3 linked regions of the Homo sapiens genome follow. The protein of the gene in region 2 purifies or fractionates together with the protein of the main gene of each other region. This does not show direct contact. Each region holds a gene or a part of one and is shown on either strand. Other genes may lie near its edges.

Evidence for each region.
Region 1: the proteins of SCFD2 (region 2) and HS2ST1 purify together in Homo sapiens (affinity purification with mass spectrometry; one large-scale study listed by BioGRID and IntAct). This does not show direct contact.
Region 3: the proteins of SCFD2 (region 2) and NBAS purify together in Homo sapiens (affinity purification with mass spectrometry; 2 studies listed by BioGRID and IntAct, with this or other methods). This does not show direct contact.

The regions. Positions count from the first base shown.
Region 1 is NC_000001.11:87,106,579-87,110,333, reverse strand, and holds the end of HS2ST1 (heparan sulfate 2-O-sulfotransferase 1), read right to left. Parts: 3' UTR 352-3,755; downstream 1-351. UniProt on the Homo sapiens protein: Catalyzes the transfer of a sulfo group from 3'-phospho-5'-adenylyl sulfate (PAPS) to the 2-OH position of iduronic acid (IdoA) or glucuronic acid (GlcA) within the heparan sulfate (HS) chain and participates in HS biosynthesis.
Region 2 is NC_000004.12:53,138,921-53,142,575, forward strand, and holds part of SCFD2 (sec1 family domain-containing protein 2), read right to left. Parts: intron 1-3,655. UniProt on the Homo sapiens protein: May be involved in protein transport.
Region 3 is NC_000002.12:15,166,341-15,169,955, reverse strand, and holds the end of NBAS (NBAS subunit of NRZ tethering complex), read left to right. Parts: intron 1-2,632; coding exon 2,633-2,908; 3' UTR 2,909-3,040; downstream 3,041-3,615. UniProt on the Homo sapiens protein: Involved in Golgi-to-endoplasmic reticulum (ER) retrograde transport; the function is proposed to depend on its association in the NRZ complex which is believed to play a role in SNARE assembly at the ER. Required for normal embryonic development.

The sequences.
Region 1 (3,755 bases), on a different chromosome or scaffold from region 2:
CAGAGGTTTTCATGTTCTCAGTTTTTAGCTTGAGAGCCTATTCCTTACACTGCTGCTGTCCTTTCTGTTCAAAGAGTGCAAATCATTTCATTCCTGTGATCCTGAATTTTATGTGTGTACTATTTAGCAGTCCTTACTGTTCAAATATACTAAGATATGAACTCAGTCATTTCTGGAATAAGCAAGTCCTATCTTCTTTAGAACAGTCAGCGTTTCCCCCCTTTAATCTGTACAAATGAGTGATTTGTATGTGGAAAGAACAGCAAGAATCAGAACCAGGAATATTTATGCTACAGGTACATAAGTGAGGCGGTATTAAGATAATCAGTAAAAAGTACAGTCATTCAAAAATATTTATAAAAATATCATTTATGAAATGACAAAACCAGTATTCTGCAGGGTGAGAACGGCACATCAGCTTGGTAACAATATTCCAGCACAGCATATAAATGCCATCAGTTATTAGTCTACCCTGGCCAGTACTTTGCATACATCATGCCCAACCTTTACAACAATCCTGTTATGTCCATTTACTGACATCACATTGCTAAATGCAGATCCCTTTGATTCTCAAGCCATGCTCTTTGTTCAGCCACTGCAAGTACAAACCAAATTCTGTTAAGAAAACTCATCATTGAACTGGTATTTTATCAACCCAATATCATATAATATAAATAGAATCAATCAAGCATTGCTCAAAGCAATGAGCCAGTGGCTAAGAATTGAAAATCAATGGAATTGAGACTTTCTTCTTTAAGGGGGAAAAAAAAAATCAGAAATGTGTGTTCCCAAAAAAAATTATGGATATGTCCAAACTGTGCCATAAATGTTAGATTAAGTTACTTTCAAATTTTTTTAATTCTAATAGCCCTTTCTCTATTTTTTTCTTCTAATTAAGTATATATTTTGTAAGTTTTCCATCTGAAATTTTATTACCAGCAATGAAGTACAAAGCAAAAGCAGCAGAGGCATGTCAGTCCAGATAAAATATTGTCACAAGCCATAAAATCATTAGAAACCAATGATGTTGCATGCTTTCTTGATGGCAACACTATCTGAGAGTTAAGTTGACACTGAACACTGAGTCAGCTTGGAAAATGTCCATCAGTGTCAAGGCTACAAAAGAAAATATTAAAACAGGACACCAATTTTTCCCCTTCCCACTGTTTATTTTATAGCTTTTGCATCAGGTAGTCAACTGAAACACTTCAACATCAGAAAGCTGGCAGAATGTTAAGGAAAAGGAGTGATTATCTCTCCAACAGATGTGACAAAATGGTTTCAAGTTGGAAACAGAATTTGCATAAATGAATCAACTGAATGGAGTGGGGGAGGGCAGGGAGAGAGAAGAGAGAAAGTAGTGAGCATCTTCCAACAGGACTATGAGGGAAAAAAAAGGCACTGTTGAGCTGTGTATTTATAAAATAAAAGTCAAAATACACAATCCATGTTTCCGAAAATTACATTCAACACTGCTTCAGAGATGCTCACATACCTGACTCTCAATAGAAAGCTACAAAAACTGTCTAAAAAATGAGATAGACAGCATCAATGTCTCAACACAGGCTTAACAGTAATGCGTTCTAAAGAGTTCATCACCATCAGGGTCCATTTTATAAATAGTACTGCAAAGGCCACAAAGCTGCATGAAATTACAGGATAAATCTGACTAAATGATCATTCATTTCAATCTCTAAAATTCCTGCTCCAAGAAATCAGAAAGCTCCACTCCAGAGGAGCTGAATTGGCAGTGGATTTGAAACAGGGTTGCTTTTCTCCTCAGAAGGCTGCCTAAAGAGTAGTTTAGTTGGCATCATACAGCAACTTTGCATAGGGTAAACGGATGCAAAAACATAACAGCAACTTCTCTGCTTCCTCTGAAAGTAAACAGCACTAATTTATGAAGAGGCCAACTCAAATCATAAAGGAGAAGCACCTGGGCCTCTTAAAGGCAAACCACATAAAAGGTTACAGGGTGCTTCTCTTAAGGATTCTAGGACCATAGGTGTGTTTGGGAATGACCAATGGAAAAATCCAGTTAGATGATTTACACAGATGTTCTCTATGTAGATTTGAATTTAAATTAAAATGCCAGCTATGCATTTGGGAACCAGCTTTTAGTTAAATTCTCTAGCACTTTTAGAATTATTTGATTTTATTAAAAAAGAATCATTGTCTACAAACTGTTTTCTAACAATGCAAATACAGTAAGCAAGTCATCTGCAATATCAAAATATTGTTTGTAAATCACTGATGGCACCAACGATTTGAGGAATTTCCAATAGGACACATATTGAGAAAAAGCAACAGATTATAGGCATTAACCAAATTTTAAGATCAGAAAATTATAAAAATCATTAAGTTTAAATTATCCAATTTTCAATAGCTTAAATCCAATCATCAGGAATTCAGAAGCACCCAATATGTTTGAAGTTGCACAAATGCATATGGATGATAGGAAAGTAATCCCCATGCAATATCTTAAGTGTTGCTATCAGATATATTTAAGTGCTACTTTACAGATTAAGCTGGGTAAAATCAAAATATATTTTACTTCCCATTAGATTTTAAAACAATCACAATAATTTATCAACAGTTGCCATTTCACAGCAATTAGAAAAGAGGAGTTGATACAAGTTGAACAGAAAGGTATCTTTTCTTCTTTTAGGAAATAAACATATATATATATATGTATATATATTTCACATACACACATAACATTATCTTTAAAATTCCAAGTGGTTACTTTTGTATTATAAAAAAATTATCTCCCTATGGTCAAAATACTGAAAAAGCGCAAAGGCTGAAAAAAGAAAACCACATTTGCCACTTTAAAAAAATACATTATTGTCTCAGTGGTTCTATTTATTTAATTGATTATAAAGTATTATGACTCCTAGTACTGTACTGGACCTGATGGAATTAAATACACCCCTTTCTCAGTCTCCAGAAAGGATACTCCTAACCCACCCTAAAATATGATAAAATAAATGCCCCTATTCTGAACTGTTAAACTGGGAAATAAACCATGCCCACCTGGAAACAATATAAGTCATAAAAGTTTATGAATCTGTGGGAGAGACTACACGAATCAGAAAGCAATTCTTTGGATATAAGTTAGGAGCTTTTAGAAGTATATAAACTCTTTTAGGCATCTAGAGTAGAGACACAAAGAGGATTTCTCCATAAATAATGATTTGGCCAGTGCAATGGTTGGTTGCCCATGGTCTGCATCTGGGATGTCATCTGTTTTTGTAAATAAAGTTTTATTGGAACATAACTGTGCTCATTTGTTTACATAATGTCTATTGCTGCTTTTGTGGTAAAATGGCAGGGTTGACTAGCTGTGACAGAGACCGTATGGGCTGCAAAGCCTAAAATATTTACTCTCTGGCCCTTCCACAGAAAGTTTACTGACCTCCTGATCTAGTTCACCAAGTACTGCTCTAGTTACCTAAAAGAGTTAATGCACCTCAAGAAGATTTGAGCATGTGGTGCAAGAATAACTTGCATACTGGGTTTGTTCATTAGCATGTAATGTCAAACCACACCTTGAAGTGGTGCTTTATTTTGGGCGAGGAAATAATTTGTATACACTTTCAGGAAATACCTATAAAAGTCAATTTGAAAAAAGGAAAGAAAAAAGCCAAATTTAAAAAAAGCCTGCCTATGTTCTTTTAATATTTTTATATTATTGTGAGGAAAGGGTGCTAAGATGATTGTTCTGTCATTCTTTTAGTTTTTCTTTAGTTTAT
Region 2 (3,655 bases):
GCCGAGGCTGGACTGTACTGCCGCCATCTCGGCTCACTGCAACCTCCCTGCCTGATTCTCCTGCCTCAGCCTGCCAAGTGCCTGGGATTGCAGGTGCGCGCCGCCACGCGTGACTGGTTTTTGTATTTTTTGGGAAGACGGGGTTTCGCCATGTTGGCTGGCCTGGTCTCCAGCTCCTGACCGCAAGTGATCTGCCAGCCTCGGCCTCCCGAGGTGCCGGGATTGCAGACGGAGTCTCGCTCACTCAGTGCTCAATGTTGCCCAGGCTGGAGTGCAGTGGTGTGATCTCAGCTGGCTACAACCTCCACCTCCCAGCCGCCTGCCTTGGCCTCCCAAAGTGCCGAGATTGCAACCTCTGCCCGGCCGCCACCCCGCCCCACAAGAAGTGAGGAGCGTCTCTGCCCGGCCGCCCATCGTCTGGGATGTGAGGAGCCCCTCTGCCCAGCCGCCCAGTCTGGGAAGTGAGGAGCGCCTCTTCCCGGCTGCCGGCCGTCATCCTGTCTAGGAAGTGAGGAGTGTCTCTGCCCCGCCGCCACCCCGTCTGGGAGGTGAGGAGCGTCTCTGACCGGCCGCCCAGTCTGAGAAGTGAGGAGCCCCTCTGCCCGGCAGCTGCCCCGTCTGGGAAGTGAGGAGCCCCTCCGCCCGGCAGCCGCCCCGTCCGGGAGGTGGGGGGCAGCCCCCGCCCGGCTGCTGCCCCGTCTGGGAGGTGGGGGGCGCCTCTGCCCGGCCGCCCCATCTGGGAAGTGAGGAGCCCCTCTGCCCGGCCGCCACCCCATCTGGGAGGTGTACCCAACAGCTCATTGAGAACAGGCCATGATGACGATGGTGGTTTTGTCGAATAGAAAGGGGGGATGTGTGGGGAAAAGAAAGAGAGATCGGATTGTTACTGTGTCTGTCTGGAAAGAATTAGACATAGGAGATTCCATTTTGTTCTATACTAAGAAAAATTCTTCTGCCTTGGGATGCTGTTAATCTATAACCTTGCCCCCAACCCCCTGCTCTCTGAAACATGTGCTGTGTCCACTCAGGGTTAAATGGATTAAGGGCGGTGCAAGATGTGCTTTGTTAAACAGATGCTTGAAGGCAGCATGCTCGTTAAGAGTCATCACCACTCCCTAATCTCAAGTACCCAGGGACACAAACACTGCGGAAGGCGGCAGGGCCCTCTGCCTAGGAAAACCAGAGACCTTTGTTCACATGTTTATCTGCTGACCTTCCCTCCACTATTGTCCTATGACCCTGCCAAATCCCCCTCTCCGAGAAACACCCAAGAATGATCAATAAATACTAAAAAAATAAAAAAAAAGAACAAAAAGAAAAAGGGATATCATTTAAACACAGTATGTAGAAAAGAATAATTATTGAATCTGTACTGGTCTTTAACTTTTACACTTTGATCTTTAATTCTGTTATTGTGATTGAGTCCAAAGAAAAATAGTATGAGTAAAATAAAAAGAACACCAAAAATGCTAATATATATATATATATATATAAATTTTAATCCACAGGGCAATCACCGTCAAGAGATATTATTGAAATAAAATTTAAGTTTCCTAGCCTTGTTTTAGAAAGCTGGGCAACCAATAGATTTCAATGGCTTGAAGTGATACTTTAATTTCTTTATAACAATGCAGAAACTAAAGAGGATGCATTCATAAAAATAGGGAGGTATGGCAGGATCTATAAGTAGCTAATACAGACAGATTAATAAGCATAGGCAATATCTAACATATTAACCAGAATATTAATTCTCTGTTCAGAATACAAGAACATAATGGGATGGTTGAGCATGCACGGCATAAAACGATATATGTAAGCAAACATGAGTTACAGAATATAATACATGAAATGGTTACCACAGGTGAGGTTGTGGCAGGTTTAGAATATCATGTTTAAAGACATGGGCTACAGATCCACAATACCTGGGCTCAATTCCAGGCTCTACTGTTTATCAGTTGGGTGATGTTAGCACACTTAAATTTTTAGTATACAAAAATGGTTACTTTCTTGATCCTATCAACAGTTAAGATGGTAATGGAGGGTAGCCAATCATATACCCAAAAGATACAGTCCTGAACTCCCTAATCCTTAATGTTGAAATCCTAAAAGATCAGAAGCCCTAAAGCTGAAATCCTAAACATTGTAATCCTAAAAGTATAATTCTGGAAAAAAAATTTTTTAATCTTTAAAGATATTTACATTTTTAAAAGGTGATTTATTTGATAAACAACATGACAGAACATTCCATAAGCCACTTTACACAAAAAAACAGCCAATGATAATCTATATTTTTGTAAGCATAAACACTCAGGTATACTAATGACAGTCACAGAGGTATAACAGTTAAGATGAGAGGAAATATATTTATAGAGAAATAGGGTCAAAAAGGGAAATGTATACATATATCTCTCTAATTGGTAATTGTGTGCACCCAGCTTTACGTAACTGCAATCATCTGAATTACTATGATGAACAACCTCTTGTCTTTTGACAAGATTGATCAAAAACCAAAATGGCTGAGACAGGAAAAAAACAAAACAAAACACACAACGAGTCACTACCCACAAGAGCCAAGATTTTGAGAAATTTTGTCTTTCACAAGTGCAGATGTATGAAAAGGACACCTCTTCATTTACTGAGGAAGTTTCAATGCTTTTATATACATGTACAATGCTTACACACAAAGTCAATGTTGTGATAATGTACATTTGTGGAGTCAAATTTGAAAAAAAAAAAAACATTAAATCAGTTAGAACTCTTTGAAAGTCTACACATTTTATACCTCCAATTTATACTGGATGTTGGTAACATGGCTCAGGCTGAAGAAGCCTCAGGATTCTGGGGATCAGTGATGTAAGTTCTGGAGTCTAAAGTCCAGCAAGCCTGGAGTTCTGATGTCTAAGGCAGCAAAAGAAAAGTCTGTCCCAGCTCTCAGAGAAAGACCAATTTGCTTTCTGTATTATTATAGTTCTATCCCGGCCCCAGCTGTTTGGATGCTGCCCACCAACACCGAGGGTTGATCTTCCCCACCAAATCCACTCAGGCTCACACACTCATTTCCTCTGGAAACACCTTCACAGACACACCCAAAATAATGTCTTACCAGATTTCTAGGTATTCTTTAATACAGTCAAGTTGACAAGTAAAATTAAGTCCACAAGTCCACCCCTTGTCAACTTGACAACCATGCACATCTTCTTAAACCATACTTAATTTCCAAATAAAGACAATAACAAGAAAATGGTTCCACCAAACATGATTCAACTACCCTGTGTTTGTGATTTTCAGGATTTTAGATGTTAGGAACTTAGGCTTTAGGGATTTTGATCTTTCAGATATCAACACTTGGAGCTGGTGTTCAGAAATGTGTCTTTTAAGATTATCCAAACCTATAAAACTAAAGCACTATATAAAAAGTAGAATTGTTATTCAATTGTTAATCGATTCCCTATTTTCAATAATTCTTTTTAACCAAATTTTCATCAACCACAAAATGTGCATAAGGCATACAATAAATTTTGCCACTCAGTAACAAGAAAGCCAAAACTGTACATCGGAATAACATGAGTGCAAACCTTACGCCAACTTTCCAACAGCAAACTGTAGGCAAGTTCACTGTAAAAGCCAGGCTAACCTAGTTCCAGCACACACAAAG
Region 3 (3,615 bases), on a different chromosome or scaffold from region 2:
CTGCAGGGTTAGGCAGGGGGATTCTTTGTTTTGAAGGATGAACCAAGATAACACATACAGTAACTCAGATGCCCTGTGTGTGTGCACGCATTAGCATGTGCATGCACGTGGCTGGAGGCAGCCACACAGACTGAAAGAATGTGAGCTTTGGAGTGATTCATTCACTTGGGTATTCATTCCACAAATCTTGCTCAGCTCCTAGCATGTGACCACCCATTCTGGACATGGGGATACAGGGGTGAACAGAAGAGACAAGATCTCTGCTCCATAGGAACTTGTGTTCTGGAGGGAAACAAACAATAAACAAGTAAACTAGGCCGAGACACGGGCTTCTAGGCCACTCCACCATGGAGCAACTGTATCACACTTGACCTCACTGAACCTGCCTCTGTCAGAGGAGGTGAGAACTGTCTTGAAGGGATGTCTGAAGACTTCAAGGGCCTCTCAGGGTTCTGGCACGTAGACACCGTGCTGCTGAGGGCAGGAGCTCTGTGGGGTTGAGACTCTTGTTTGCTAGGCATGAAGAGACAGGGAGAGAAGTGGGATGGAAAGAAGGCATTCAGAACTCACAGGCAGCCCCAGCGAGGAGAAGTCAAAGCTCCGTGCCCCTTCCAGCACAAAAGCAAGTCCATTGAACCGGTGGCTTTTTCTGTCATCTAGCTCCTAAAAACAAAAACAAAGGTAAATTCCTGGAGTTCAACCTAAGTGTTTTGGGTCAAAGGTGGGGTCAAAGGTGGGCTGTACAAGTGTTCATGAATTGGGAGGCCGGAGAAAAGACACTGAGGGTTTGCAGAGAGGGTCTTCTGTTCTGGAGTCTAGTTCTATTCAGTCTCTCTGAGAGGTAGGGTCTTTATCGTGTACTTGTGCAGTTTACAAAAATGTGACAAAGTTTCATAATGTAGGTTCACTCAGCCATTTAACAAATGTTAATGAAATGGGGAGCTGAAATGTAAAAGTGATAAAACTTCTGTGCCTTCAAGAATTTCCCAGTCGGTAAGGGAGACAGACATACAAATTACTATCATACAGGCCGGGCACGGTGGCCACGCCTGTAATCCCAGCCCTTTGGGAGGCCAAAGTGAGTGGATCACCTGAGGTCAGGAGTTCGAGACCAGCCTGACCAACATGGTGAAACACCATCTCTAATAAATACAAAAAATTAGCCAGGCGTGGTGCCATGCACCTGTAATCCCAGTTACTTGGGAGGATGAGGCAGGAGAACCGCTTGAACCCAAGAGGAGGAGGTTGCAGTGAGCCGAGATTGCACCACTGCACTCTAGCCTGGGCAACAAGAGTAAAACTCCATCTCAAAAAAGAAATAAATAAAATAAAATTACTTATCATACAGCATGAAGAGGCAGATCTCAGGCATCTTGGGAGTATGGAGGAAGGAGGAATCCTTGGTCATACTCCCAAGTATTGGCCAAGAGAGTTAAAGAAAATGTCAGCAAGAAGATGGCATTGGAGGTGATGTTTACATTGGGTTTTGAATGACCCCTGTGGGTAGTAGGAAAGATTCACGCTATCCGATAGTGGGCAGGATTTTATTCTCAGTACTTCTCTTGCTTTAATTCTCACAGTCAGTAGACAAGTAGACACAGTTGACCTTCGCATCTTCAATAGCCTTTCTTCCTTGTCACAGAACATGCAGGAAGAGCACATTGTGTACAGTTGCATAATATAGTTGGTCTAAACGTTAGTTAATTGGCTTTGACATTATTTCTGAGAGTCCTACAATCCAAATTATTAAAAAGGCACAGTAACGTTAAGAAAAGCCTGTCAGGAATCTGTTTTATGATACCCCAATGTAAGTGAGAAGCTCCGAATTTTGATAATATGATCAGTGTGGACTTGATTCTTTAAAAAAATATTGAAAATAATACATATATTTAGAAGACAAGACCAGGGAGAAAGAGAATACGCAAACTGAAAGAACCTATGAAACCGTTTTTTAAAAGGCAAGGTTGGTACTGAGCTTCCTAGAGGCTGAAGCAAAAATAGTTTAAAACCCCACTGTTGGTTATCTTACTCGTATCAGTGGGCTTGAGGGACATACTCTTCTCTCAATGGAGTACAAAAAAGGTTTTCTTGTTCCAAAAAAATTTTTTTCATGTGTATTTATATTCAAGAAAGATACAGCATTAAAGAATGTGGATCACAGTGAAAGTACAAATGAAACAGTAAATGTGGTTGTTAAGAGCACAGACTTTGATGTCAAGATTGACCCAAATTTACAATCTGGCTCTACAACTGGTTACAATGTTAAGCAAAGTTGCTACACCTCAGTTTCCTTTTCTGTCAATTGGGAGGTAAAAGTGCCAGTCACGGGGTTGAATCAGAAGGCCTTGGTGAAGAGATGCTGGTACAGTGTTGAATAGTTTCTGGCACCCAGTATCTGGAAGCTGTAGTGATGATTGCAGTGGGGTTCTTGTGTCTTCTTATGTTAAGAGGAGCCCCGTCTGTCATCCCAATCTGTGACCTACCTCAGAGGTGCTCGTGACCCACACACGCTTTTAAACCCAGGCCAGGGCATGAATGATGATGAAGGCAGCCCAGTGGAGAGCGAGGGATCCAAGGGGGAGGCGAACAAAGCAAACACCCCCTCACGCTGTGCCTGTCTTATTTCTTGAAGGTGAATGATTCCAATTGTGACCAAGAACTTCTTTCCCTGCTCCTGGATGCCAAGCTGCTGGTGAAGTGTGTCTCCACTCCCTTCTATCCACGTATTGTTGACCACCTCTTGGCTAGCCTCCAGCAAGGGCGCTGGGATGCAGAGGAGCTGGGCAGACACCTGCGGGAGGCCGGCCATGAAGCCGAAGCCGGGTCTCTCCTTCTGGCCGTGAGGGGGACTCACCAGGCCTTCAGAACCTTCAGTACAGCCCTCCGCGCAGCACAGCACTGGGTGTGAGGGCCACCTGTGGCCCTGCTCCTTAGCAGAAAAAGCATCTGGAGTTGAATGCTGTTCCCAGAAGCAACATGTGTATCTGCCGATTGTTCTCCATGGTTCCAACAAATTGCAAATAAAACTGTATGGAAACGATGAGCAAGCTGCCGCTTTTTTAACCTTTTTTTTCTTTCTTGTACTGAGTGGTGAACATATTTTCTTATTGATTAAGAGACTCTTCCTTCCCACCCTCCTTTTTTATTTCAACCTGCCTTTTCTGGATAGAATTCAGTTTATAATGTGTCCACAACTGTAGTTCAGCAAGTTGGATGTGCTGGTGGATGGGGTGGCATTAGGAAGGGAGGGAGTGTGCAGAATGCCTGGCGGTCAAGGCAGGTGTCATGGGTGGAGGGAGGGTGGACCTGGACTCAAGTTTCAGATTAGTTAAATGACCTCGGGCAAATTCTTCCACCTCTTTGAACCTATGTCTATTTTGTAGAAAAATAAGGGTGGTATTATTTGTCTCGTAAAGTTGATAAGTATTATGTGGGGTTGTGTGTGTGAGGCTCTATCAGATACACAGCCGGAGCTGAAGAAATATTAACTCTCTGTCCCACTCACTAGTGTCACAGTATATGAATTATGACCTTCAGGGCATAGCCAGATGATCAGGACCAATACATGATTGCTGTCTGATTAGAGGGCTTCAAAATTTATCAGCATCGACATGT